Linked DNA regions of Homo sapiens. The protein of the gene in region 4 interacts with the protein of the main gene of each other region in a biochemical or structural test. Each region holds a gene or a part of one and is shown on either strand. Other genes may lie near its edges.

The links.
Region 1: the proteins of RGS16 (region 4) and GDE1 form a complex in vitro, tested with the Homo sapiens proteins (one study listed by BioGRID).
Region 2: the proteins of RGS16 (region 4) and GNAI2 form a complex in vitro, tested with the Homo sapiens proteins (one study listed by BioGRID).
Region 3: of the proteins of RGS16 (region 4) and LYN, one has a biochemical effect on the other in vitro, tested with the Homo sapiens proteins (one study listed by BioGRID).

What each region holds. Positions count from the first base shown.
Region 1 is NC_000016.10:19,519,079-19,526,962, forward strand, and holds the start of GDE1 (glycerophosphodiester phosphodiesterase 1), read right to left. Parts: upstream 3,021-7,884; 5' UTR 2,887-3,020; coding exon 2,626-2,886; intron 1-2,625. UniProt on the Homo sapiens protein: Hydrolyzes the phosphodiester bond of glycerophosphodiesters such as glycerophosphoinositol (GroPIns) and glycerophosphoethanolamine (GroPEth), to yield a glycerol phosphate and an alcohol.
Region 2 is NC_000003.12:50,239,193-50,246,213, forward strand, and holds part of GNAI2 (guanine nucleotide-binding protein G(i) subunit alpha-2), read left to right. Parts: intron 1-7,021. UniProt on the Homo sapiens protein: Guanine nucleotide-binding proteins (G proteins) are involved as modulators or transducers in various transmembrane signaling systems.
Region 3 is NC_000008.11:55,945,834-55,952,854, reverse strand, and holds part of LYN (tyrosine-protein kinase Lyn), read right to left. Parts: intron 6,408-7,021; coding exon 6,362-6,407; intron 5,238-6,361; coding exon 5,132-5,237; intron 2,397-5,131; coding exon 2,298-2,396; intron 2,175-2,297; coding exon 2,071-2,174; intron 890-2,070; coding exon 740-889; intron 1-739. UniProt on the Homo sapiens protein: Non-receptor tyrosine-protein kinase that transmits signals from cell surface receptors and plays an important role in the regulation of innate and adaptive immune responses, hematopoiesis, responses to growth factors and cytokines, integrin signaling, but also responses to DNA damage and genotoxic agents.
Region 4 is NC_000001.11:182,601,386-182,609,007, forward strand, and holds the start of RGS16 (regulator of G-protein signaling 16), read right to left. Parts: upstream 3,005-7,622; 5' UTR 2,875-3,004; coding exon 2,831-2,874; intron 1,955-2,830; coding exon 1,844-1,954; intron 1,100-1,843; coding exon 1,035-1,099; intron 748-1,034; coding exon 581-747; intron 1-580. UniProt on the Homo sapiens protein: Regulates G protein-coupled receptor signaling cascades. Inhibits signal transduction by increasing the GTPase activity of G protein alpha subunits, thereby driving them into their inactive GDP-bound form.

The DNA.
Region 1 (7,884 bases), on a different chromosome or scaffold from region 4:
CCTCCAGACACAAATAGCAAGCTGGGGCCTATGGAACTTCTGACCAATTGGCTTCAAGTCCTCTTAGGTTTATTTTAGTTTTTATTTTTTTAATTCCTCTTAGGTTTTTATGGAAGCTTCATGATGTCAGCATTCCTTCCCCCAGGGTATAGGGTGGGGTCCCTCTCTGAGGAGGGTCTTAAGACTCACAATTTGAAAGACAGGGAAAGATTCCAGTCCTGCCTTGGGGTAGGTGAAAGGAGGGCAGGAGAGATTCTGTTTCCCAAGGCCTGCTCCTAAGGCCTAGGATGCCTAACAAAATACTGTAGCAAGGGCTGAGAGTTATGAGCCAGGAACCATGGATGAAAACCTATATATGTGTGTGTATGTGCATATATATATATATATATATATATACATACACAATACTTAATAGATTACAATATAGTGTAAACATAACTTTTATATGCACTGGGAAACCAAAAAATTTGTGACTCCCTTTATTACTATATTTGCTTTATTGACTATTTACTCAGGTCTGGAACTGAACTTGCAATATCTCCTATATATACTAATATGTGAATTAGAACCAGGGATTCATCTTTTTATCTCAATTACTGGAATAACATAGAAGTACTGGTAAAGCTGGCCAGGCAGTGGCTCATGCCTGTGATCCCAGCACTTTGCCTGTAATCCCAGCACTCTGTAATCCACTGAGGCAGGTGGATCACTTGAGGTCAGGAGTTTGAGACCAGCCTTGCCAACATGGCAAAACACCATCTCTACTAAAAACAAAAAACAAAAATTAGCTGGGAGTGGAGGAGTACATCTGTAATCTTAGCTACTTGGGAGCCTGAGGCACAAGAATCGCTTCAACCTGGGAGGTGGAAGTTGCAGTGAGTTGAGATCGCCCCACTGCACTCAAACCTGGGTGACAGAGAGAGACCCTGTCTCAAAAATAAATAAATAAATAAAATTATTGGTAAAGTCGAATGTATACATACATATATACATTTCTGACAGTGCTAGAATTTCTGGTAGATTATAAATGAGATATAGAAGGAAAAACTTGATAAATGTGAGTTGAGTGTATTCCAAAAACAGATACACTACTATAAACAGTGGCAAAGGAATGAAATTACACCCACAGTACATTCTCCACATGGGCCAGAGTGCAGCTTTAAAAGTATAAATCTTGGCCGGGCACGGTGGCTCATGCCTGTAATCGCAGCTACTCGGGAGGTTGAGGCAGTAGAATCACTTGAACCTGGGATACAGAGGTTGCAGTGAGCTGGGGTTGCGCCGATGCACTGTAGCCTGGGAGACAGTGAGACTTCGTTTAAAAAAAAAGAAAAAAAAAAAGAAAAAAAAAGGAAATGAGGGAGGCCAGGCATGATGGCTCATGCCTGTAATCCTAGTACCTTGGGAGGCCGAGGCGGGTGGATCACTTTGAGGCCAGGAGTTTGAGACCAGTCTGGCCAACATAGCAGAACCCCATCTCTACTAAAAATACAAAAATTAGCTGGGCGTGGTGGCACACGCCTGTAATCCCAGCTACTCCGGAGGCTGAGGCACGAGAATCGCTTGAACACGGGAGGCAGGGGTTGCAGTGCGTGGAGATTGCACCACTGCCCTCCAGCCTGGGTAAAAGAGTGAGACTCTGTAAAGTAAAAAAAAAAAAAAGAAGAAGAAGGAAGGAAGAAGAGAGAGAAAAATAAAAAAGAAGAGAATCAGATATATTTACACAGATGCAAAAGTGCCTAATCCACTGAAAAGCCCTCTCTGTAAGCTGTCATTATTATGAAGCTAGGAGAATGCCAAGAGCTGGGAGGTATCAAAAGTTTCAGGAGTGCCTTGTGAAAAGGAGGGGGCAGAAACTGATGTGAGTCCAGCTGCCAGGGTTGTGCGAGTGCGAATGTGTGTGTCTGGGGAAAAGGTGATAAGGAAATGACTCAAGTGATTTACAAGACAAGCAAACGTATGTCTTGTGAAGGGTGATCTATTTAGACTAACCTCAATTACTGACCAAGAACCTATTTGACCTGACCCATTTTCTACTTCATTCACACACCAGTCTTTGTTCTCTTCCTTGAAGTCAGGCCACACACTGCCTCTTCTGTTACCTGAACACCCCTATATTATTCCCATCTCAGGACCTTCTGCACCTGCCTGGCTCCTTATAATTCCGGTTTCTGTTCAAATGTTGCTTCTTCGGAGACGATTTCTCTTGACTATTCCATCTAAATAAAATAGCGTAACTCTTTCCTTCGAGTTCCCCCGATTTCTTCATTGCACCTTTCACTCTCTTAAAGTTATCTCATTTATGTGTTTACTTGTTTAAGGCTTGCCTCCCCCATTCCGATGTACACTCTGTAAACCAGGGACACTTTTGACCTTGTTCCTGGCTGTATGTAACCTTAGCGTCAGGCGCACAGAAACTATATACATATCTGCTGTCTTCTGTAAATATAAAACCTCAAGTCCGGAGATCCCTAGACACTGGGAGCGATCAAGGGCCGGGAGTGTGCCTTGTGGACGAATGAGGAAGTGGGAAGGCCGTCCTGAGAAGATCGGGGAACCCTGGGAAGGAAAAGTAGAAGTCCGAGCTCTCGGGAGGACCGAGGGGCGCGAACGTGGGGGTCTCACCTGCCGAATGGCCGCCAGCGTGTTCTCGGGCGCGTCGTGGCTGCCGCCACGGTGGGCGATGGCAGAAATGCGGTCCCGGGGCTTGAGCACCTGCAGGGCCCTGCAAGAGGGCACCGGCTCAAAGCTGAAGACGCGCAGTAGAACGAAGAGGCTGCCGGTGAGGAGGCAGGCATTGACCGGGCTCCGCGTCACCAGCAGCAGCACTAGCAGCAGGAAGGAGAAAGGGCCCAGGAGGCCGCCCTGGTCCTCCCACAGCCACATGCCGGCGCCCGCACCGGCACGGACGGGAGTCCCGGACCCGCCGGGCTCCTGGGGCAGTAGAACGAGAAGCGAGGGGGAGGGTCCAAGGCACCGGCAGCAGCAGGAACCCTCTGAGGGGACCAGCGCCGCACAATGGCGGCAGCAGACACATCCAGAGAGGGAGTCGGCCGCCCAGCCAATCAGGGATCGGGATTCGCAGCGCCAGTGGGCGGAGCCGCTCCATGGCAACGGGGGAGGGCCCAGGCCCCAGGCCCCAGGCTCACGTTCCAAATCTAAGGTGGGTTAGGGTTTTCCGAGGTCTGAACTTCAACCTGGGCGTTCAGACTCCTAGGCGAGAAAAGGAGGGATAAGAACCATCCTAAAGCTGTAGGACTGGAAGGGATTTTAGTGACTCCTTTATCTGCCCTTGAGGAAACTGAATTCCAGGGAACCTGGAGAGGCAGGATGCTTAGACTATCAATTCAATTCAATTCAATTCAGTTCAGTTCAGTTCAATTCAAGATGTGCCAAATACCGGTCCAGGTGCTCCGGACACAGTTGAACAGGACCTACAGGGTTTTTGCTCTTATGGGATTCACATTCTTGTGGGAGGAAATAAAAGTTAGCAAGTACACCTAACGTTTACAGAGCACTTACCATGTCCCAGGTACTTGACGAGCAAACACTTTATATGCTTATCTCATTCTCAATACAGCCTAACAGTTACTATCAGGAGACTGATTTCAATCGACTTTATTTTCCAGATTCTGGGGGACTGGAAGAGCCTAGCAAAGAAGGCACAATCGGATTATAAAACTGGAAGGGGTTTTAAGGATTCCCTTATTTCATAGATGCGGAAACTGAGGATAGGTGAATTAAGCAGTTAATGGCAGGGTGGGGACTGACATAAAGGCCTCCCCAGTGATTTGTGACATTTTCACTCCTCCTCCCCCTAATCTTACTTCTGCTAAGGGCTTTTGTACCAGGCACTGTACAGGAGTTACCTCAACTGTGCCTCACAACCACCCTTGTGATAGGCACTTTTAAAACCCCCATTTTACATATGCAAAAACAGGCACTGGAAGGAGGGTAAGAGAGATAGACCATGAAGCCGAGTTAGGGAGTGAAAAGGGGCCCCTGGACATATTTTGGAGGGCTGGTAACATTTTTATGTAGAGAACTTTGCAAAAATATTCAGGGATTTTTCTGTTACCTTTTTTTCCTTTAGTGCATTTTCCCACTGATTTGCAAAAGGGGATAGATGTCTTAAGCCTTCCAGTTGGCATCTAGGATTCAGCCTTTTTTTTTTTTTCTTTCAGACAGTCTCACTCTATCGCCCAGGTTGGAATGCAGTGGTGCAATCATGGCTCACTGCAACGTCGACCTCCTGGGCTCAAGCGATCTTCCGACCTCAGCCTCCCGAGTAGCTGGGATCACAGGCTCGCGCCACCCCACCCGGCTAACGTTTAAAATTTTTGTAGAGATGCCGTCTCCCTTTGTTGCCCAGGCTGATCTCGAACTCCTGGGCTCAAGCGATCCTTCCGCCTCGGCTTCCAAAATGTTGGAATTATAGGCGTAAGCCATCACGCCCGGTGGGTTCAGCAAGTTTTTACCTACAAGAAAATATTTTGGTGAATGTTACATGTTTTCTAACGGCTGCATAGAAAGGGGTTATCTTTATACAGATAAGAAAAAAATGGCAACTTCAAGGAACACTTCAGGGGGCTTCAGACCCTGAGGGGTGTTCCTATTCTACTAAATAAGTAAATTTATTAATAAATTCTAGTCTCTAGCTTGCAAGGAAGACTACGTTTCCCGGCGTGCAGCGTGCTGGCCGTAAGCATTACGTCCTCCATCGCGGGCGCGCAATGCACCTCGGGGATGGTAGTGTTCTGGTGGCCCAACGGTTTTAACAGCCCGGGAATCAACCACCGGAAGTGCCGGCCCTGAGAGGTGGAGTCGGGGTGGCAGCGGCGGCGGTTGCCAGGAGCCCGCGTTGCAGCCTGAGATCCGTAATATGGCGGGGAGGAGGAGGAGAAGGCGGCGGCGGACCGAGCTGCGCTCTGTCAGTACCATTTGAGCCATTCGCTTCCTGACAAGGCCCGTGGCGAGGGGAGAGGAGCTGAAGGGGCCGTGGGGGATCAGGTGTGTGCATGAGGAGGGGGCTTGAGCCTTGACGGGTCCGGGCTGAGAGGTGGTCTGGCGAGGCGAAATTGGCGCCCTGAGAAGCTGAGGGCGGGCTCTGTGCTGGGCTCCCGGGCCTCGAGCCCCCTGGAAAGGCGCCGGCTGTTGGGAGGCGGGACCCCGGGGGCAGCCAGCACCGGGCGCTGAGGTGATGCTCCGATGCTGGCCCCGCCTGGAGGGCCCTCGGTTTGGAGTCTTAAATCGGAGGAGCTGGAGGAGGTGGGCATGGGGCGCTGGGGAGAGGGCAGGGGGCCGTCCCTGGTGAATAAAACTCGGGCCAGAGCCGGAGAACCCCATCGTGGTGATCAAATTGTTTGGGCCGTTTTTCTTCTCCCTCCCACGGTGCTGGAGAGGGAGGCTTCCCCGGGGTGTGCATTGGCCATTTATGAGCCCCTGTTTCCACAACCAAGGCCCTAGGAGCGCTGCTTACTTCGCCTTTGCCACTCTGGGGCATAAACTTGAGGATAATAAAGTAATCGATTGCCCCTGGAGCTGCTAGATGGTTCCCACCCTTTGATTCTATTCTGGTTACGATCCAAGCTCCCTACCCCCAGTTTAGGCAAATGGCAGCCATCTCGAGATTGATTTGACGGGGAGAGGTCTAGGGACAGGGAAATGAGGAAGCCGTTGTCCCCTTTTCTATATTTTTCAGTTTCATTTGAAACCTACGGGGAACCAAGCACTGTCGCTGCCCTCCAGGAATTCATACTCTACTGCTAAAAATCGTCATCATCATTATCCTCTTAATAAGAAAAGCAGTCCCCATTATTTGTTGCTTTCTGCGTGTTCTGCACTACGTTAATTGCCCTACATGCATTAGCTCATTGAATTCTTACAACATTCCTTTGAGACGGATACCGTGATCATCCCTCTTTTACAGAGGACGAAACAGGTGTGGGGATGGTAACTGGCTTGCCAAGAACTTGCAGCTAGTACGCATCTGAATAAGAAATCTTCCCCTTTACCGCTTTTACAAGAAGTTTGCGTCTTTGGCGGAACTGATGGGCAAAGAAACACTAGGTTCTGCAAAAAAAAAGCAGGATCTGTTCTGTGTTACTTTTACCACTCTTTTCAGTGACATGTCTGGCAGAGCACGGGTAAGGAGCAGATAGGACCATGAGTCTACGGGGTTTGCAAAGAGGCTCATTTGCACAAGGGTCAGTGGTTCTCTGTGGTATAAATGGAGAAGACGGCATGTCTGAACCTGCTGTAGCTGACAAATTATTACTGGAAGTGGACCAGTGATGCCTGATGGCAAGATATAGAGCAGTAGATTTGTGGCTGGGGTAGCCTTGTAGTCAGGGCTCCCTTAAAATAAAACCTTGCTGACAGTGGTAATTGTAGTGTGAAAGGCATAGTGTCCTCTTGCTTAATCATGGGATACAGACTGCTCACTTCTTAAATGGTTACCTTTGCAGTTTAAGAGGTACCAGTTTCTCTGGGACTAGAGCCATGGTGAAATTTCCATTCTCTAAATTCCACTCTTCCTTGCTAGCTTCGGTGTATAGTCCGCCTTCTTTTTTTCTTCTGGTTTACATTATTGTTTGAGCTTATTATTATTCTTATTCATTTATTCAATACTTTTATCAAGTGCCTGCTGTGTGCTGATACTGTTCTGTGTAATGGGGATTCAGTGAACAAGACTGAAAAGGTACCTGTACTTATGGCGCTTACATTTTGGTGGAGGAAGACAGACAAAAATCAAGGAAATAAACACGATAATTTCAGATAGTGGTAAGTGCTATGAAAATTGGGAAACAGCAGGGTAATGTGATAGTGATAGAGGCAGAGTTCATTTAGATGGGGTCATCAGGGATGCCTTCTCTGAGGAGGGGATATCCAAGCCGAGACTGAAGAATAAGAAGGATCCAGTCATGCTCTAAGGATCATCTAGTAATTTGTATAATCTCCATATTAGCACTCATATTTGAATGAGTAATGCGTTGTCATATGCTGTGTTGTGCTGTAATAATAATATAGTACTATACATCTGCAAGATATAGGACATATATGTACTATTTAAGGGATGTGAATAACTTTCTGAAACAATGAGGCATAGCTCTATGATGTTGAAAGAAAAATAAAACTATGGCCATAAAAGTATTATATTTCCTTAATAATTTCCCTCACTTCTAAAATTGAATTTCATGCTTTGCTTGAGTATCCATAGAAGATATATTACTTTATTTGTATAATCTATTTACATTCTGTGTATTGCTGAATGCATGGCATGATTAAAAAAATAAAATATTTGAGCAGAAATGGGGTTAAGAAATAATGTGAGTTGAAACCTAGACCTAAAAAAAGGCTATGCCTTAAGGTGTTTTATTGTTTTTACTTTTGCTTTTTTAAAATAAATAAAAGCTTGTAAAATAGTCTCACTCACACTGTAGAGAACCATTTGTTTGTCATTAGATTCCTACTTTGCATAGATTGAACACAAATAATTACAATTGATTGAATAGTAGGAAGAAGTTTTGTTATTGATTAAACTATTTAGAAAAAATAGCATTATATCTTATTTTTTTATAACCTGATTATAATTTTGACTATTTTTTTTTTCCCATTTCTCATTGCACTATAATTTGTCCCTGATACTTTGGTGTACTGAATTTTTAAGTACTTTGAGGCCTACCGAGGACATATCCTATTTCATCTTTGCATATCCCACATCATGAATTGAATTTCCCTGCCCTCTCTTTTTTTGTTAAGAAGCTAATTATTTTAAAATGAAGACATAAAGGAACATGATTGTATTCTATTTTCTGTTTCCATAGTTCATACCCTTGCTGGTTATGATTCTGATAATGTCTTTTTATTTTCCCTTGCTTATTT
Region 2 (7,021 bases), on a different chromosome or scaffold from region 4:
TTGGGATGGGCCTGTGTGGACAGCTTCACAAAAAAAGGAGACAGTGTCCACCATTGGCTCCATAAAGGCTTCAGAATGTAAACAGAGCAGTTCTCTCTTGCCCCTGGAACTTTGTGTGTGTTGTTCCCTACTTGATTGTTCTTTAAAACTTTACTCTGGGATCACCTCCCAGGATCCTTCCTGGACATCCTCCCTCGACCAAGGCTGGTGAAACATCTGGCTCCCAGCGCTGTTGCTTCCCCCCTCAGATGCCTGGAGACTGCAGGGCAGGGCTAAGTCCTCTTCATTTCTGTGCCCAGCATGGAGCCTGGCATCTACTGGGTGCTTCTCATCTGTTTGTTGAATGAAGGAAGTATCCTCTGAACCTGATTTTGGGTAGATGGTGGAGTAAACTGAGCGGCAGTTTGCATACTGTGGGCAGGTGGCAAGGGCCCACAGGCCCACCACAGGATTGGTGACCAGCATTGAGGGGACACTGAGAAAAGTTCTTCAGGCTGTTTCTTCCCAGCCCCGCCACAGGCTATGCTGGCACCTGAGAGAGTTCTTATCCCACCCTGTGCGGAACTCCTGCTGAGCAGAGTGGCTTTGTATTCTTCCTTCCAACTCAGGCTGTTGGTGCACTGCTAGAGGGCTGCTGTCTCTGACACTGCAGTAGCCACAGTCGAGCTTGAGCTGGCTGGTCCAGCAGGGGCTGCTCCGCAGCCCTGGGGCTCAGACCAGAGCAATGCTGTGAGAGTCCTGGTACTGGCCAGTGCAGAGACTGCACATAGCAAGGGCTCAATGAAGTTTACCAAAAGAAAAGAAAGGGGGTTTTGTGGCCTCTGTCCTGTCTGTGTCTCTTGCAAAGGGCTGGCATACTATAGATGCCTAATGAGGGTATATGGACAGAATGAAGTGATTGAACATGTCCATGAACAGGGCAGAGCTCCTGGGAGAGGAGTAAGTATAATCCTGGGGCAGCCACTGGAGCCTGGTCTAGCTAGAGACAGATAGGAAGGGTTAGCTTGGGATTCTGGCTGGCTGGGTAGTGAGTTAGACTCTAATGGTGCCTGTGAAGGGGGGCTTCCTGGAGGAGGGGGTCTGCTGGGCAGCTGTGAAGGATGAATACCATTTGCCAGGGCCAGGCACTGGGGGTCAGAGGGACCAACTCGACAAGAACACTGCAGCAGGAAGACTTGGCCTGTATTCCCAAGAGCTTGGGTGGGTGTTTCCTGGCCTGGTGGGGAAAGGGCCACCCTCCCTGGACCAGCCCATGGGGTCATCCAGACCTGAGTTCGAATCCCAGTTCCACCTATGGCACTGGCTGAGAGACTCAGCATCAGGTGAAGCCCTGGCAGGAGTCCTGCTCTCCACTCATAACCTGGGGGCAGAGTGCCTCCCTGCAGCCACAGGTTATGGGGACAGTCTACCAAAGCTTGGAGGTATGAAAAATGGGTGAGGGAGGCCAGGCGCGGTGGCTCACACCTATAATCCCAGCACTTTGGGAGGTTGAGGCAGGCAGATCACCTGAGGTCAGGAGTTCAAGACCAGCCTGGCCAACATGGTGAAACCCCGTCTCTACTAAAAATACAAAAAAATTAGCCAGGTATGGTGGTATGTGCCTGTAATCCCAGCTATTCGGGAGGCTGAGGCACGAGAATCGCTTGAACCTGGGAAGTGAAGGTTACAGTGGACCGAGATGGTGCCACTGCACTCCAGCCTGGGGGACAGAGCAAGACTCTGTCTCAAAAAAAAAAAAAAAAAAGAAAAAAAAAGAAAATGGATGAGGGACCCACTGCTGAGAGTTTGGTGGGAAGGAGTCTCCCATCCTAGAGGCTGCCTGGCCTGGGTTTGGAGCCCTAGGGAACCCCCTCCCCTGCCCTCAGGCAGCTGTTCACAGCAAGTGGGGAGCCCAAGGCGTGCAGATAGTTGGTGCCAGCAGGAGTGACAGACTGCCCTGGGGACCTTAGGCCCAACCTCTGGGGGTCTAGGTTTGGAGATGTGGTAGGGCCCTGGGTGCCAGGTGGGCCAGTACCCACCCAGGCTGGCCTCCAGCCCCTACACTCTACCCCAGCCCTCTCCTTCACTGCTGGAGCTCATTAGCACTTGAATGGGGGGCGGGGCGGCTTGGGCCTCTGAGTCTCTTCTTCCCACCCCTCCCCCAGGCTTGTCGGGGCTTTGTCTGCAGGAGCAGGCAGGGATAGAGCTCCCACACTAAGGAGTGAACAGGGGTCCAAGCTATAGCTGACCCCCTCTGCCTGCATCCTGCCCAGTTCTGCTAGGCTCAGCCCCTGCCTCTCACGCCAGTGTCAGTGCAGCCAACATGAGGTCATACCTCTAGGGTAGGAGTGAGACTAGGTCCTTTAAGGGATACCTCTGAGCTGAGAGACTAGGTGAATCAGGGCAGCTGGAGCTCAGCTGGGGGCATCCCAGGCGGGTTGGGGAGAGGAACCCCAGACAGAGGGCAGAGCAGGTGTGAGGACAGAGAGAATGAGCCGCGCTGCTGTGGCAGGAGGTGGAAGTCAAACCAGTTGCGGGACACAGGCTTCCATGTCAGAAGCCCTGAGGCAGCATCACACCACCCACTATGTGTCAGAGCCTAGGCTGCTGGATGGGGCCTGGGGATGGTCCGGGACCCCTTTGGCCCTGGGCAGCTTGTCAGCGGTTGGCCCTGGGTGGCCTGAGAGGTAGGGTCACTGAGTGCCATCACTGATGTCCCAGGCCCTTGAACATCAGTTTGCCTGGCAAGTGGCAGCAGGTAGTGCTGAGGGTGGGGTGTGGTCAGGTCCCAGCAAGGTCCCTAGGCCTCCAGCACTGCAGGGGGTGGGGCAGTAGGTGCACTTGGGGCTACTTGGGCCACAGGCAGACACACAGGTCCTGTATACTCTGCCGTTGATCTTAGTTCTTGGTCCCTGGCTGTGACTCTCTCAGTCTGTCTCTAAAAGCCACCCATTCACTTGGCGGGAACAGGATGGAGGAAGCTTTGTCCACCCAAGCTCTTAGCCACTGAGGAACCAGGGACTCCCCCCACCCCACCCACAGCAGAGGAGGAGACTGTCACCCCAGAGCCTGAGTGCTGCCTCCCCTACATCCCGTTGTGCTGTGGGGGGAGGCAGGACCGGGCAGATGGGGGCAAGGTACAGGCCAGGGAGTAGTCTCATCTTCCCAGCATCTCAGGCCAGGAATCCCAGCCTAGGAGTTGAGCGAGGAGGGGAAGGGGTCAGCAGGTTCTGGCCAGGCCACTGCTGATACACCCTGCCTAAGAGTGCTCTGCAAGGTGCTTTGGGGAAGGCAAAGGATTGGGCCCTTTGATGGTGTCCCTGGTACCTGATGCTCTCAGGCAGCCCTTCCCTCAGCTACAGGTGCAGGGTGGAACCCCGTCTGCCCAGCCCCACCCAGCCCTTCTAGCTTGAAGCTCTCGTTCTTACTAAACCCCAACCCCACCCTCACCCTGATGTTACTTCTTGGGGCTGTGGCTGCTCTTGGTGGCTGGGGAGGAAGAATCTTTCTGGAATAACCAAACATTTGCTGGGCTGGTTCTTCTGTGCCGGCCTCTGTGCACATTTACAAGGCTTGAAAGGCAGCACCACACCAGTCTGAGCAAAGGCCTAAAGGTGGGGTCATCTCAGCCTTGTTGGGGAGAAGATATCCTTATGGCTTGGAGGAATCTGGGGGCTCCAAGGCTGCTGACAGCCTCAGGATATGCAAAGGAGGTGATGGCAGCACCTACTGTGTGTGCCCCCGGCGGGAGGAGGAGGTAATGAAGTCTGCACGACATGGCAGGGCAGGGCTGGGCCTCTCGGGGAAGTGGTGTCCACACCAGAGGAAAAGGAGGAAGCAGCTGGGGGAGGAGGAGCCCAAAAGAGGAAGAGGCCAGAGGGCTGCCTGGTGCTAGGGTGGGGGTGAGAGCCCAAGGGCCCCCCAGGGCTTTGCCAACTGGAAGGGTCTAGGAGGTGAACACCTGCCCAGGCTTATCTTTGCACTCCTGTGGGCCATTCTAGTGGCGGTCACTGAGTTGGAGCCAGTCCAGGTAGCTCTGTACCTTGTCCCACCCCAGCAACCATCGGGCCCAAGATCCCAGAGAAGGTGGTGCCTTCGAGAAGGATTCCAGGCCCCTTCTTTGGCCACAGGAAGTTGTGGCTGGGAGAAGGACGCTGGCGGGAGGGCTAGCAGGAAGGCAGAGGGCTGCTCTTAGATTCCCGAGCGGCCATTGCTCTCCAAAGCCGGAAGGCCAGCCACAGGCTGAGATGAATGCCTGGAAATGCAGCAACAGCCCCGAGATGAGCTCACTCTGGGTTTCCCCTGCTGGGGGGCGGACAAAGGATCCCTGGCCTCAGCCTAAGGATTCTCCCCTACCAGCACCCACTCACTGGGTCTAGGGCTGCATTCACTGGGCCTGTTTCCCCTCAGGTGATAACCACAGCTGTCTCTGATTGAGCCTTGACTGTTGTGTGGAGCTGAATTCTTCATTATCTTGTCATATTTAATCCTGTGAGGCTGGGACTGATATTACACCCATTTCACTGATGGACAAACTGAAGCTCAGGGACTTTATGCACTTAAACAGGGAACAGAGATGTCAGGACATGACCCATGTAGTGATTAAGCGCCTGCCTCCAACTGCCATGGCCCTTTGGGAGTCTGTGCTGGCTGGAAGTAACGGATCAGGCAGGACAGCAGGCAGACGGTGTGGGTGCGTGTGTGTTCTGCCTGTGCCTATGGGCCCTGGCTTTCGGGCCTCAATTCTTCTTTTAGGAGGCGGAAAGGGAGCTGTCTGTCCTGGAAGGTGGGACCCAAGACTCTGTGTATGAAGCTTTCTACAGCCATGTGGTCATGGGGGACCCCCTCCACTCCTTTTTTTTTTTTTTTTTTTTTGAGATGGAGTCTCACTCTGTCACCCAGGCTGGAGTGCAGTGGCATGATCTCGGCTCACTGCAACCTCCGCCTCCTGGGTTCAAGCGATTCTCCTGCCTCAGCCTCCTGAGTAGCTGTGACTACAGGTACGTGCCACCACGCCCAACTAATTTTTGTATTTTTAATAGAGACGGGGTTTCACCATGTTGGTCAGGCTGGTCTCGAACTCCTGACCTCAAGTGATTCGCCTGCCTCGGCCTCCCAGAGTGCTGGGATTACAGGTGTGAGCCACTGCGCCCGGCTGCAGCTGCACCTTTTGACTTCCCACTTTTTCTCCTAGTCCGTATCCTCTCACAGTGATGCTCAAGTTATAGCTGGCAATTTAGGACTTCATTCTTTCCCTAATATTATGCTTGTTCTCCCATAAGCCCCAGTCTTAGACTGAGACCAAGCCTGGGGAAGGCTCAGAAGCTATTGAAGTCCATGGTGAGGGCCTCTGAGACTGGGAATTGTCCAGAGGAGTGAAATGAAAGCATGTTCCTTAGGGCTGCACTGTGAGCACAGGCTCAGTGCTGGGTGCACGTACGGTACTGTGTGGTGGTAGAATGTGGCCATGGTGTTGGCTGATGACTGCATGATAGTTGTTGAGGCTGGTTCCTCTTGCTCCTTGGCCTCCGAATCTCAGTGCTGTGGCCTAGTGGGGCCTTGCCCTCTCTTGTAGGGGTTCCTAGGGGTTCTGCTGTGTTGCCAGGCCAGGCCGTAAGGGACTGAGGGGGCTGAGGAAGGCTTAGGAGAGCCAGAGCAGAAGCGTCCAAGCCTCTCTGGGCCATGAAGCCATGCACAGAGCAGAGACCCGTGCATCCTCATGGCCACCCAAGACTGTGGGTCCCAGAGGGTCCAGTTCCTCACCATGAGACCTCAGACTGTCCTCTTCCCTCTCTGTATCCAGCACTAGAATCTGTGATGCTGTGATTTTTTTTTTTTTTTTCTGAGACTGAGTTTCGCTCTTGTTGCCCAGGCTAGAGTGCAGTGATGCAATCTCGGCTCACCACAACCTCCGCCTCCCAGGTTTAAGTGATTCTCCTGCCTCAGCCTCCAGAGTAGCTGGGATTACAGGCATGTGCCACCATGCCCGGCTAATTTTGTATTTTTAGTAGAGACAGGGTTTCTCCATGTTGGTCAGGCTGGTCTCGAACTCCTGACCTCAGGTGATCCGCCCACCTCAGCCTCCCAAAGTGCTGGGAATACAGGCGTGAGCCACCCCGCCCCGCCAGTGCCGTGATTCTTAGCATGGTCTCCTGGCCTGTGGACACAAGGACAGCTGCTGGCTTGGGTTGGGCCCTGAGGCAGTTTGGGGTGACTTTGAAGAGGCTACTCAGGGCAGGCCTTGGGTTTGGCACCCTCCCTCAAGGGGTACATTTCATAGATGAGGCCTAGGCTCCCGTTATCTTTCCCAGAGTCCACCGCCATGAATCAGAAGGGAAAAGAGGTCATTCAGGTGCCTTGGGAACAGCGGAGGGATGCCTGAAATGAAGAGGCCTCCAGGGAGACGGTGCCAAATGGCCCAGCTCCGCGTGATCCGCGTCTTGTCCAGCACCTCCTGGCTCCTGCACAGGCGGTACCTGGGGCCTGAGGCGCCAGCGATGAACAGGTCTGGGGCCTCCTTTATATCAGGCCAGCCTTCCTCACCCGGTGCCTGAGTTTCCCTCTGTGCAGTGGAAAGGGCCCCACTGAGGGAGACACACCTTGCCCCAGAAAGACTTTCCCATGTGTGGGCAGGACCTGAGGCCTCAGTTTCCCTAACACAGAGATCTCTGACTTGGCAGTAGGAAGCCAGGCCCTGCTTGGTAGTGCTCCCCTTTGGGCACTGTGAACCCCTGGAAGCCGCTGGAGGCAGCCGAGTGCCAGAGACTGGCGGGAGGGAGGTGTGGAGTCTGTTGGTCTGTTCAGGCATCCGTTATAGGGCCATGCCACACACATGGGTGGGAGTGTTGCCGGTCCCTTTCAAGACCTCGAGTCCCTGCCTCCCAGTGCCGGACCCGTGCTGAGCCTTCTCGGAGGGAATGAGGGGGGCCGGGGAGCAGCACCTGGAGGAAGGAAGAGACGCCAGGGGCGGGGCTCAGAGGGCCTTTGTCTGGCGGGGTCTCTGCCCCTCCCTCCCGTTGCCATGGTTTCTGTGTGTGCCGAG
Region 3 (7,021 bases), on a different chromosome or scaffold from region 4:
ATTTCAGTGGTAGTGTTATATCCGTTTGACTTTACCAAGAATATACATTACTTTTACACACACACACACAAACACAGATCTGCAAATCTGCATTCCTATTCCAGATATTCAGATGCATTGTAAAAATATATGCAAAGACAATATATATTTTTCTCTTGGTAATTGTGGAACACTGAATGTCAAACAGCATGTACTAGGTGGGAAGGACTGGGAGAATTATTCACAAGGATCAAATCTTACTTTGTGTATTTAACTGTAGATTAATTAATTGCTTTTATTTTAGTATTTGTTTTTTGAGACAGAGTCTTGCTCTGTCACCCAGGCTGGAGTGCAGTGGCGCGATCTCAGCTCACTGCAATCTCCGCCTCCTGTGTTCAAGTGATTCTCCTGCCTCAGCCTCCCGAGTAGCTGGGACTACAGGCACGCACCACTATGCCTGGCTAATTTTTTTTTTTTCTAGTAGAGATGGGGTATCACCAGGTTGGCCAGGCTGGTCTCGAACTCCTGACCTCAAGTGATCCACCTGCCTTGGCCTCCCAAAGTGCTGGGATTACAGGCGTGAGCCACTGTGCCTGGCCTAACTATAGATTAATTTAGAACCACTTATAGAATATGACCTGCAACTGTATCTAAGAGAAATACGATGCATAAAAAGTTTTAATATAAAAATAGCGTTTGACGTCTTATACATATCATAACAAATATATCTTGTCTTGTTGAACCTTCAGTTTTTACTTACTTTGGTAATGTTTAATCATGTCGCTGATACAGGGAAAAGTGATTCGTGGAGAGATGTAATAGCCCCCATTATCCAGACTTCTAATTTTGTAGTGCTTAATAACATCACCATGCACAGGGTCAAAGTCTCTGACAGACAGAGAGAAGCTTCCTATGGGGGGAAAAGTGTAAGTAAATGTTTATATCTCACAAATAAGATCTGCATTATACAACAACTGCAGTACACATTTTGTGATACAAATATGCAAAATACATATATTTATGAAATTTGTATAAAATGCATAATTTTAAAAGTCCTATAAAAATTCTACTTGACAAATGAAGCTGGCATTTTGTTTGCTGTGTAGCTTGCCAACATACCATTTTCTTTCTTCATGATAATTTTTTTAAAATTATTATTTAGCTACATTTAAATTTTTTTAAGTTACTTTGATTTTCTTTTTTTTTTTTTTGAAATAGGTTGTTGCTCTGTCACCCAGGCTAGAGTAGAGTGGCACAATCATAGCTAACTGCAGCCTCCACCTCTTGGGCTCAAACGATCTTTCTACCCCAACCTCTCAAGTAGCTGAGACTACGATCATGCACCACCACAGCTGGCTAATTTTTTAATTTCTTATAGAAACAGGCTCTTGCTATGTTGCCCAGGCTGGTATCAAACTGCTGGGTTCAAGTGATTCTCAGTCTCGGCCTCCCAAAGCATTGGGATTACAGGCCTGAGCCACCACGCCCAGCCTAATTTTCTTTGTCTTAAAACTTCAGGATTTATTCAAATAATAATGCAAAAGGCTCAGCAAACAAAGCCTGGTAAGAACTGGCCACAATCATGTGTGCTTTCTACAGTACTTTTCTTTTCTTTTCTCTTTTTTTTTTGAGACAGTGCCTCACTCTGTCACTCAGGCTAGTTAGAGTGCAGTGGCGTGATCACGGCTCACTGCAGCCTCCCTTCCCTGGGTTCAGGTGATCTTCCTACCTCAGCCTCCAGAGTAGCTGGGACTATAGGCATGTGCTGCCAGGCCTGGCTAAGTTTTGTATTTCTTGTAGAGATGGGGTCTTGCTGTGTTGCCCAGGCTGGTCTCTAACTGCTGGACTCAAGTGATCCTCTCGCCTCAGCCTCCCAAAGTGTTAGGATTACAGGTGTGAGCCACCACACTCAACTATATTACTTTTAGTAGCACAACTAATCACTGAGGTTTGTTATTTGTTATCAAACCATAAAACTTTTACTACCAGAGCATACTATATGCCCTTTTTTCCCCTTGAGTAGCTCTAGAATAGTTTCTAAAAATAATTTCCTAAATAGTGTTTTAAAAGAGGCTTTGAACAATTTCCTACCTTTTAATGTTTCACTTTCTCTAATAAGGAAAGCTCCAGCGCTATTTCCTGGTGCCAAAAGCTGCCTTTCTGCGTCCTTCCTGGTTATATCCTTGAAAAACCACCTGTGAAGACATTTCAACATTTCCTGCATATTATGTTCCACGGCAAGAAAAAGGTGAAGAATATTAACAAGAAATCCAATGTGGCAAATAAAGCCACCAAGATGACAACACATGAGGACTCACTCTTCTGTTTCTAAGGTGTTGAGTTTGGCCACATAGTTGCTGGGGATGAAGCCTTCTTTTTTTGTTAAAAGGGACTTTGCTTTCCACCATTCTCCATGCCTAGAATAGAAATACACATCAAAAAGAAGCTAAAAGATTACATACTCCATGCATGTATCAAAATATCACAGATATCCCATAAATATGTATTTATGTACAGATATTACATATCAATTAAAAAATTAAAAATAAAGAAAACATAGACTTACCACAGGACCCAGCAACTATACTCCTTGACATATACCCAAGAAAGATGAAACCATAATGTCCACACAAAAACTTGTACATGAATGTTCAAAGCATCCTTATTTGTAAAAGCAAAAAGTAGAAACAACCAAAATGCCTATCAACTGATGAATGGACAAAATCTGGAATATCCATCCAGTGGAGTATTACTCAGCAGTGAAAGGAATGGAGTGCTGAGAGATGCTACAACAGGGATGAACTTTGAAAACATTATGCTAAATAAAAGAAGGCAGTCAAAAAGGACCACATATTGTATGATTCCATTTATGTGAAATATCCAGAATAGGTCAGTCTTCAGAGATAAAAAGTAGATTCGTGGTTTCCTAGGGCTGCAGAGAATGGGAGAGTTGAGGTGACAGCTAAGGGGTGCAGGGTTTCCTTTTGGGGTATTTAAAATGTTCTAAAATGGATTGTGGTGATGATTGCACAATTCTGTGACTATACTAAAAAAATCACTGAATTGTACACTTTAAGTAGATGGATTGTATGGTATTGTGAATTCTCAATAAAGCTATTAAAAAGAGAGAGAGAGAGACAAAGAAAAGAAGCCAGGAGTGAGGGTTTTGAATGTTCACAACACAAAGAAAGAATAAATGTTCCAGATGATGGATATGCTAATTACGCTGACTTGATCCGTACACACTGCATACATGTATCAAAATATCGCTCTGTATCCCATGACTGCATATAATTATTCCATGTCAACTAAAAATAAAAGGAAAAAAGTGTTTATATCCAAGACTCAACAGCTACAATAGCAATTGTCTCAAGATGTTTGTTTAGGATGGTGAAGGCGGGTGGAGAACATCTCTGGAACCCCAGAATCCAGTGGGAAAATTCACTCTCCGTGATGGAATTAAAATATGTTTAGAGACAGAAGCAAAGGAAAACAGCCTTACAACTAAAGCACGCATCACTGCGATCAGGGGTGCACAAAGAAGAGTTGGTACAAATGGCTCCCATCTCACAGAAACAAAAGGTTTGTAACTTGCCCCAGGATAGCTAAGAAATGCTTTCAAATCCTTATAGAAATGAGAGTCAAGGGAATACTGGTCCACAGTTCATGCATTATAAACTCCTTTGTTCAAACATCTAGTTATCATAGAGATGGACACTATGAAAAGAAGAAAACCATAAGACAATTCCAAGCAAGTGAGCTTCAGCACCATGCTCGAGTCCTCAGCAGAAAGGCAGGCATGGAGCCAGGGAGGAGGCAGGGATGAGCACTGGAAGAAGCAAGCAGGTAAGCTGGTAATGGGGGAAGGAATGGGTCCCTTTGAGCCTTAACTGCATTCCTCTATAAATTCCACACACAGACAGGATCCTTGTCTGTAAGGCATGAAGGCAACTAGAACTAATACTAAGCTCTGCATCCTCTTTGCTTATGTCATGTTTAAACACATGCATCATGCTCACATCAACCCCATGATCTAGGTACTGTCATTCCCATTTTATAAGTAAAGAAACCAAGGTATAAAGTTTAAGGGTCTTGTCAAGGTCATACAGCTATCAAGTGGCAGGGCCAGGATCAGGCTTAAGTCCCTGTTCAACCCATATGCAACATTGCTCTCAACCACGGAACACCTTGTCCTTAATAAGGGAGTCTCCCCCTCAAACCCTATTTGGCAGGTCACAGTGACATTTAATGCAAGATTAGTAAGAAAAGCAAGCTAGAATTAAAGCAACTGGAGTTTCTTATTCTGAGCACTGTCCTGCATGCCTATGGTCTGACACTGCCACATGTCTGAGTCAGCAAGAGGGGGTTGAGGAGATGACGACACTCAGGCGTCCTCACAAAAGCATGGCAGCTGCTGAGTTGAGAATTTCCCAACACAGCTGCTGTAGCTCAGTACCCTTAGAACTCAAGCTAGGCTGGGCCCATGAACCCAGTCTAAACATGAGTAATATAACAAAAGAAAAGTGACATTTCAAGTATCATGCATGGGCCACACAGACCCAAATTTCTTAAGGTGGCAAGAGTGGATAAAGAAAGAAACCAGGCTGGGTGTGGTGGCTCACACCTGTAATCCCAGCACTTTGGGAGGCCAAGGCAGGAGAATTGCTTGACAGCAGGAGTTCAAGACCAGCCTGGGCAACATAACAAGATCCCATCTCTACAAAAATTTTAAAAATTAGCCAGGCCTGGTGGCACATGCCTGTAGTCCTAGCTTCTCAGGAGGCTGAGGTGAGAGGATTGCTTTAGCCTAGGAGTTCAAGGCTGCAGTGAGCTATGATCATGCCACTGCATTCTAGCCTGGATGACAGAGAGAGATCCCATCTCAAAAAAAAAAATTGTTTTAAAGAAAAACCACTGTCTGTCTTCAAAGGGAAACCCCCTGAAGTGTGCTCACAGACCGACTTAAAAGGAAAATCCCTTTGGCTCTATTCCTTCCACTGCCCACTCCCTGTGGGTAGCAAGGAGGCCTCATACCCATTACAAGAAAGGGGCCGGGCTATGGCTGTAGCACCAGAAGCAAGACAAGGGGACAGCCTGCAGGACTCAGTGGCCTGAGGAAACGAGCAGCCGTGGCGTGCTTGAGAGCACTTACTCCTCCAGGACTTTCATCTTCTCTCCTTTCTTGAAAGACAAGTCGTCCGGGTGGATGCCATCATAGGGGTACAAGGCTACCACAATGTCTCCTTGTTCCTCTGGATCTAAAGATGAACACAAGAGAACACCTGTAAGAATCCATCAGCAGAAGCGTTTTAACAAACCTCATGGGGCACAAAGGATGAGAGGAAGCACTAAGAGGGGGCAACTGGAAGAAGGACATGTGCTTCCTGCCTAGTGGGCTCAGGGTCTGCACGGCCCACAGAGAGTACCTTGCTGTATACACTGTGTCCAGTATTTGTTCTTGCAAATCACTTAAAACTAAAACTATAAATACAACTCTATATTTAAGAAATTATACACCCATGTTCACAGCAGGATTATTCAAAATAGCCAAGATGTGGAAATAATGCAAACATCTATTGATGGAGGAATGGATAAACATCATGTAGCATTTTGGTTTTTCTCTTTTGAGACGGAGTCTCGCTCTTGTCGCCCAGACTGGAGTGCAATAGTGCAATCTCGGCTCACTGCAACCTCCACCTCCTGGGTTCAAGCTATTCTCCTGCCTCAGCCTCCCCAGTAGCTGGGATTACAGGCGCCCACCACCACGCCTGGCTAATTTTTTGTGTTTTTAGTAGAGACGGGGTTTCACCATGTTGACCAGGCTGGTCTCGAACTCCTGACCACAGGTGATCTACCTAACTTGGCCTCCCAAAGTGCTGGGATTACAGGTGTGAGCCACTGCACCCGGCCAGGGCATATACTTACAAGGAAATATTATTCACTATTAGAAGGAAATAAATTCTAACACTTTCTACAGCATGGATGAACCTTGAGGACATCAGGCTAAGTGAAATAATCCAAACACAAAAGGACAATTACTGTATGATTCCACTTCTAGGAGGTACCTAGAGTAGTGAAATTCATAAAGACAGAAAGAGCGGAGGTTGCCAGCGGCTGGGGGAGGAGGCAATGGGGACTTATTGTTTAATGGGTATGGAGTTTGAGAAGATGCATTCTGGAGATGGAGGGCGGTATTGGTTGTACAACAATGTGAATGTACCTAATGCTGCTGAAATGTATACTTAAAAATAGTTAAGAGGGTAAATTTTTATGTTATATATGTCCCACAATAAAAAAAAATAAAAACATTTAGGACAATCACTTTATAGAAGCTCTAATAGTAAAGAAAAAAAATTTTAACTATGTTGCTATGAAAACATACCTTTAGTTTGAAACCTCTGTCCAGGTAAAAGCTGAGATTCTGGAACCTACGAGAGAATATTTGTTAGAAAAAAAAATTCTGTTTAGCTTTTCTTACTCACATTCGTGTTGTATATATGATTTTTGTAACAGTAGCAGATGTTAGGATGGGCTCATTTATTAAGTCAGAAAGAACAGGAGCACAGAGGGAAAAACCTGTAGAGGTGCATCCTGCCCTGCTTGGCCAGTGACAGGGCTCTTTATCACTTGCTGTGGGTGGCAGGAAGGGAGCGAGGTTCTGGGCAGGTGCCAGGTGCTCACCTCATCCTAGCTCCTCCTCTTCTTTGGTGACAGAGCCCTAATATTATTTGGGGTGGCAGTTTGCCCAGCTCAATGAGTGTGCTTCCAAACTCTCTAGCCCCGGGCAGAGGGCAGAGGGAGTTTTGGTCCGCAGATCGGTTGTGCAGGGCTTTGCTGTCAGCTCCCCTTTTCCCTTGCCTCTTTCTCTCTCCCTAGAAACAAGTGAAGGCTGGAGTCTTCACATAGAAAGCAAACACCAGCGGCAGCAGGATGGAGACGGAAGAGGTGGGACCCTGGTGATTTCGTGGAGTTGCCGTCCCAGCCTGGGACTGCCCATCTGAGGCTTCCCCAATTGTATAAAATTGCATGGTCAGGGCTCTGT
Region 4 (7,622 bases):
CTGTAACAGTGTCTTGAATATAATTGGGGCTCAATACACCTTTACAGAATTATGTGGAATCAATCAGCGGTCAGAAAACAAAAATAAGGTACAAAAGTAAGGCATTACTCTTATCTTTCCACCAGGTGGCGCTGTGTTCTTTAGCAAATGCAGCTGCCATGCGTTTAGCGGCCAGGAGAGAAGGTAGACAAAAAAATCACAGACCACAGACCAGCAGGCCTCAGGCAGGTCAGCCTGGGGACTGAGCCAGGTTACATAAGGTCCCTGTGCTGACCTTGTCTCCCCAGTTGCTAAGTGTTTTGAGCCTCTAAAAACGGATGGGTTTATAAAGGTGGGTATGGACAGAAGCCGAAAAACCTGCCAACACATCCTGCCCCATCATGAGTCTTAGGGTTAAGCACCCAGGAGTGGCACTGGGCCTGGCTTTCCTAGTCTCTGGTCACAGAAGCCCAGTCACCCCTGTGCCAAGTAAGGCCCTTCTACCTCTACACCTAGCCCTTCCTCCCCTCTAGCCCTGATTCTCAGAGGGGAAGGAGCAGGCAGGGTCGTGAGGATTCACTGGGCATATGGGGGCTCTAACCTCTTTAGGGGCCTCACTGCAAATGAACTCCTCAAAGATCTGGTGTGCCCTGGAGGCCAGCTTGGTAGCTGATCGGATCTTCTTGAACTCCTCACAGGCCAGCCAGAACTCCAGGTTCTCCTCACTGAACTCTGTCTTCAGGAAAGCGTGGAAGGCAGCCACTCCATCTGGGGTTGCGGGAAAGAAGAGGAAATAGGTCAGCTGGAGGGACAGCAGGGAATACAAGAAGAAAGGAAAGCAATTGCAATTAATGGCTCTATTTTTAGAACATAATTTTCTTGAACAATGACCTGCCTTTATATGTTGAATAGAGGCTGGCACACTAGGGGATCATTATTATTATTATTACTACTACTATTATTCTGCCCAGGCTCTCAGCAGTCCTGGGGCTGGCTCCAAAGCACATGAGTACACATGTGCCACCCAGAGACAGACACAAAAGGCTCCTACTCACTTTTACTGCTCAGCAGCAGGTCGAACGACTCTCTCCACCCCAGCACATCTTCTGAGAAGTTTCTACTAAAAGACAAAAAGAAAAAAAAAGAGTAAGAAAAAAAATCAACAAACCAAAGCATAGTACAAATTCTAGCCAGAACTCTGATGGAAAACTGCATAAAATTCACAGAAAGGCTTGCTTGGTGATTGCTGAAGCTGACACCTCAAACTCTTAGTTGGACTTAGGGTAAGCAGTAGTGCTTTCTAGAGCACAATTCAGCAACCAGAAATCAAAGCCAGGGACTCTTTAGTCCTCAGTCAATATCTCTAAGCCTGTCTCGTCTCTGTCCAAAAATTATTTCAATTCCCCTGACTCTCAAAGATTTGTTTTGTACACCTTCCCAAGGAAATAAGGTCCTCATAAATAGAGATTACATCTACACATAACTCCAGAGTTTGGTACAGTTGATAGCCAATATGAAAGAGTTTCTAGGCAAGGTGCATACTAGAAAACTTCAAGTGGTCTTGGATTCTGTCCTAGCCCTGGATGCACGTGCAATGAATCCCGAGGTGGGAGAGTCTGGGAACTAGGCATTCATGCCCTGTGTGCCCTCATCCGTGGATGGACTTGGAGCCCTGGAGCCACCTACCCACTCACCCATGAGCCAAGTAGTCATAACAGACCAGCAACAAGTCCCACTAAAATCTCTAGGGAGGTGTTGCCAAGGTCCACTTAGCGTGTCCTGGCTTCTCCCTGTATTTCCCTCCTCATGACTCCCTTCCCACTCCCTTCCCTCTCGGAGCCCTGAGCTGGTCAGCAACACTTACTTCTCTTTGCTGTGTTTACTGCCCCACTCGAACTTGCCAGTACTCCCAGTATCGCAGCCCAGCTCTGATTTGTGAAGAAAGATCCCCAGACGTGTCTTGAACTCTTTGGCTCTGAAAAACAAATCAGGAACATGAAAGCATTCTCTCATTTGCTCAGCCAGTGTGGAGAGGTTTATGGGTCCCAGAAGAGCTCTGGGTGGTGCCACCCAAACTTTAGCCTCAAGAGTTCCTGGAAACTCTTGGCTGTCCCCAGGCCAAGAGTGCTTCTCTTATCAGCATCATCAACCCCAAAGCAACAAAAGCAATGTTTGAGCTATGCTGTGGTAGGTCTTACACTTTCTGGGTAATACACACGCTGCATATATGGGCTTTTCCCTAAAGTCACACTGATCTCTCTTCGTGCCTGTTGATTCAGAAAAGAACTCAGCATTCTTTTCAGAAGTATTTCTGAACTGTGTGGGAAACTGATTCCTGCCTTCATCTTTACTTTTTCCTTCCCAGCCAGTAAGGATTGGAAGCTGTTGAGTAGCTCTCTGGAATATGGACACACCCTCAACAGTGGGAGCCCCCACCCCCACACACCCCACCAAAAAAAAAAAAATCTCCCTGTCTTCCAGGGGCAGAGGAGGCAATGCCCCTAGCTCTGGTCTGAGGAATGAAAAACAAATGCTTAAGAAATGGGCAGGCTCAGTGCTGCCTGGAAATGTCAACGTGGCCTTCCCGCAGCCGGGTCTTCAGCAGGTCACCTGAGCACGACTGCAGTTTGTCAGAGGATGGGGATGGCAGCAAGCCGCGGGCCCTTGCTTCCCTTCCCCTTGCTTTCTCCCTGCTCCTGGAATCTGAGCACGTGGCATCAAGTGCGCTTCTACCTCTCTACTCAAGCCTCTAGCGCCCCATCCCCGCGCCCACCCAGGTCCCCAGGCCTGCCGCTCCACTCCCTAAGAGTTGGTGGGACTTCCCCCAAGCAGTTGGACAACCTCCCCTTACCTCTCCAGGCAGGTGGTGGGGAAGGCGGCCAGGGTGCGGCACATGGCTGCGGGCGCAGGGCAGCACGTAGTAGGCAGGATGGTGGCAGGCTCCAGGAGGCTCCGCGTGCGCCAGGAAGCAAAGGCGCGGTAGCAGGTGCTAGTCAACTGCGGTTGGGTTTAGCAGCCTGCAAGCGCCCAGACTGAGCGGCCGCTGCTTTAAATCCCCTCGGAGGAGCGGGGCGGGGCTGGGCACTGCTGACCAATCGGAGGGTGGGGCTGGGCGCTGAGAAGGCGGAGGCGGGGCCCGCAGCCAGACTGGGCCGGGTGCAACTTTCGCGGCAGCTGGAGCACGCGGAGCTGCACCCTCCGCCCAGAGGACGCCGCGTGTGGAAGGAAAAGCGGCAAGAGAATTGGCACGGGGATGAGACGTGCACACCCAGTTTCCTAGGGAAAAGTACCTGCCGACCTCTAGTAACAGCAGGAAAGTCACGCAGCGGTGTCGTGTTGAGAGAGTTTGCACGGGGGTGGTGGGTCTGGGAGGCACACAGGGCTTTCTTTGATCGCAGGCAAGTCTGAGCCTGCTGGGTCCTGAGGACAGGCGCACAGGGTGCAAACCTGGGCAAAACAGCATCTGATTATACTGATAAGTACCCTTTACGAGGCTCTTACCATGATGGACACGGGGCTAAGTAAGCTCTTCATCATCATCTCCATTTTATAGATGAAGAAATCGAGAATCAGAAAGCTAAATAAACTTGTCCAAGATCACAGTTGGAGATGACAGAAAAGTGGAATAGGGATGAGTAGTTTATTGAACACCTACTATGTGCTAGGCACATAAGTAAGACTTGCTCAAAGTCTTAGTTATTAAATAACTTGCTCAAAGATGTGCAGCTAGTAAGTGTTGGCTCCAAAATTCAAATGTGAATTTGCCATTCTTTTTCCATTGCACACACACACACACACACACACACACACACCACACACACACACAAAGGTTAGTACCCGGTCACGGCTATACCTGTGGACGATCCTGGGTTTAAGCAGTTAATACCTTATTGTCTCCATCTCTGACATAAAGGTAATAAATGCCCTTCCTCTCACCTCATCTTCCCATAAAGGCATTGGGATTGCTATTAAGAGGCTGTATGTGAGGTTAAAAGTACAGGGTCTAGAGTTAGATTTTCAGGTTTCAAGTCATGGCTCTGCCAGGTGACCTGCTGAAGACCCAGCTGCAGGAAGGCCACGTTCACTGTTAACTGGCTACTGATGGGAGACGAGGCAAACTGCTTAACCTTTCTATGCCTCCATTTCCTTGTCTCTACGAAGAGAACAACTTATTTCATAAGGTGGTTGTGAGAACTAAATAAATTAATTCTTAGTTTGAGTTCCTAGGAACTAGACTCGGGTAGACACTTGCATGCAGGAGGTTTACTGGGGAGAGTTATCAGAATTAAGAGGGAGTAAAGAAAGCAGGTCTGGGCAGAGGGAGGAGTTGAAGGCCATGCCATTTCAACAGAGACCCCAGCTGGTTCCAAGGAATGCCCGGAAGCTCAGCTGGCCCTTTGGAACTGTCCACTGAAGCAAGAGGACAAGGCCCTGGTAACCCCATAAAGACCATTCATTGCATACAGCTGCCCAAGAAGACAGCCTAATCTTAAGGCAGTGCCCTTTGTCAAGAGCAATTCCTGGAGAGAGACTAACACCCTGGGAAATGATGATCACAGTCCCCAAGACGGGATCTGGGTGGCACCGCACAGCATCCGTGACAACATATAAGGTGCTTATATGACAGTGCTCAACATGTAGTCAGCAGTCAATAAATGTTATAATAGCTTTCAGTTTTACTTAATAGGGATACTGGGATTGCTAGCAATAAGGAAAATTAGTGAGTCTTTTGTGCCTCTTGGAATACAGTATAGGCAGTGTATACTGAGGCACTCTTAGTTAAGTACACCTGAGGCACTCTTAGTTAAGTGTACTGGAACAGGAAATAGCTGGAAATTGGATCCTATCTCCCAATTCCTGAGCTAGTACTTTCTCCTGCTCTGATAAAGAAAGCAAAATAAACGGTGCCAGGAGCAGTGGCTCACGCCTGTAATCCCAGAACTTTGGGAGGCTGAGGCGGGCAGATCACCTGAGGTCAGGAGTTCGAGACCAGCCTGGCCAACATGGCGAAACCCAGTCGCTACTAAAAATACAAAAACATACCCAGGCATGGTGGTGGGTGCCTGTAATCCCAGCTACTTGGGAGGCTGAGGCAGGAGAATCTCTTGAACCCAGGAGGTAGAGGTTGCAGTAAGCCGAGATCGCGCCATTGCAAAAAAAACAAAGGCATTGATGCACAGTGCACAGACCAGCAAATCTGAGAGCACAAAGCTCCCTACTCTAGATGAACGGCCCTCTCCAAGTTCAACCTGCCTCTTTGTTGCCATGGTTACCTCTTCAGTTTCCAGGCAGAAACTTTTTGAAGTTCACAATTTATCCCAAATTATCTTCCCAGCAGGTCGGTTCATATCTGCAGTTTCGGTAATGCAGGATGACTCGACAGTTGCTGTAAATCCAGCAAGTTGAGCTCACTTATGAATTGCACTGGCTTGGACAAAACCTGACCTCATTTTTGCCCAGCACTCCCAGAGCAGATGTGATCTCTTTAATGGATGGCAGCATGGGGGCACGGCTCTGCACCCTGGGTCATCTGGGGTCAGCAGTCTGGGCAAAGCCGTAGTCAAGATTAAATGTCCCACAGCATCCCAGCCATATTGCCTTTCATCTCCTTCAGCTCCCAGCCCCCAGCACTACCCTTTCCATGGAGGCAGAAGTCTAGATGGGGATCTTTGTCTACTGATAATGGTAAGCAGAAATGAGAACTCTTCCTCCATTTTTCTGATTTAGCTCAGATGATCCTCACAGTGGTTTAGGTCCTCCAAATTCAATCATCAATCTACAAATACATATTTCTTATGAATTTACTATATTCCCAAGTTGGTGGGAAAACAATAGCTTTTAAGGCTCTTCCCTGAATTCAAGGACCTTATAATCTAGCTAAGGAAATAGAACTGCATGGTGGGGAGCAGGGAAAGTGAAAGGAAACTATTGTTTGTCACAGAAACAGATGTCAAGGGAAGAGGCTGATTAGAGACGGTTGACAGTATTGAAAAAGAAGTGATGGAGCCATGGTAGCCAGTGAAAAGCAGAAGAAGTAGGAGGAGGCATGAAAGTGAAAGAAACAGGAAAAGCTCTTATCATTTGCAGGTACAGCAAAGGTGCAGAAAGACTAAGGAATTTATTAAATGCTGCAGAAGCACTTAGGGTTGTGGGACACAATTGGATGCCACTTTTAGATTTAAGAGCGTATCCTGAAGCAGCTGAATGAGGAGGCAGTGATCATCTCCAGCAGAAGTGAAATAGGCAATCACTGGGGACATTTCCCCACTGGTTCATGACAAAAACTTTGGGCACCCTCTCCTCCTGGGTAGGAGAAGTTGACCAAATTCAGCCTGGTTGTAGGAAATGACTTTTACTATGATTAATGATTACTGTTTAGGGTATTGCATGCAGCTTGCTTTGCTGCTATATTAGTCCTCTCTGGTTTCTTCTTTTCCCTCCCTCCCCACTTCTCCCAAACCTAGACTTGGAGGATGACGTCTAGACTCCTCTGTAAGGCATCTAAGGCTCTAACCACTTGGTCTCATATCCTTTATACACCCTAAATTCCAGCCAAACTCAGCAATTGGCACATTATCCTGGGCATCATGCTGCCTTATACCCACAAACCCTTGAGCATAAAATTCTCTTGGCCTGAAGGTCCTTCCCCTTCCTGTACTACTCAGTTAAAAAAATATTTTTCAATAAACTGATTTTACTTATATATTGAGATACAATTACATATAATAAAATGCACAAATCTTAAGAGTACAATTCAATGAGTTTTGACAAATGTATACACCCATGTAACCAATATGTAATCAAGCTATGGCTTCCATCACTCCTCATGCCTGCTCCAGCAAATTTCTCCCCTAAACAGAGGTGACCACTAGCCTAAGTCCTAGAACCATACATTGGTATTGACTTTTCTTGACTTTTCTACCTATTTTTGAGACCTAGCTCAACTGCCTTCTATTCTATCATACCATCCCTAATTCCTCCTCCCTCCCCGCATCTGCAAGCAGAGTTGGCCAGGCCTCCTTTGAGCCATCCCTGTTGCCCTGTACTGATAGAATCAATGTACAGTCTGTTTCCTCTGTGCACTCCTGGAGGGCAGGGACTATTGCCTTGGTCATCTTTTTTTATCTTCAGCCCCTATCACCATGCTCAGTTCTGCATATGTTCCATAAATGTTGGCTGGGTAGATGGCTTCTGTTTCAACACAAATAATAAAAGCTAACATTTATCGAACACTTACTATGTGCCAGGCTCTGTTCTGTGTGCTTTGACTTGAAGTATCTCTTTCAATGCTCACAATTACACTCATAAGATCAGTAATATATTTTCCCCATTTTACATTTGAGTAAACTCTGTTTACGTTGAGTAAACAGAGATTGGTTAAGTAACTTGCCTATGGCCACAAAGCTATTAGGTGGTCGAGTTGGGTTTTGATTTCAGATAGTCCAACTCCAGGACCTGGGTTCCTAAGCAAACACTACGTCGGCTTGCCATGTGGTATTTTCTAGAACTCAGAATTGGCTTGCTATGAGAAGAATGAAGCACATCCTTGGGGAATCACGGCACAATGTTTCAGGTCATCCTTCTGTCTTCTGCAGTTTTGTTTCCTTGTATCCTCTCTTTCTTGCTCACTCCATTCCTCCCTC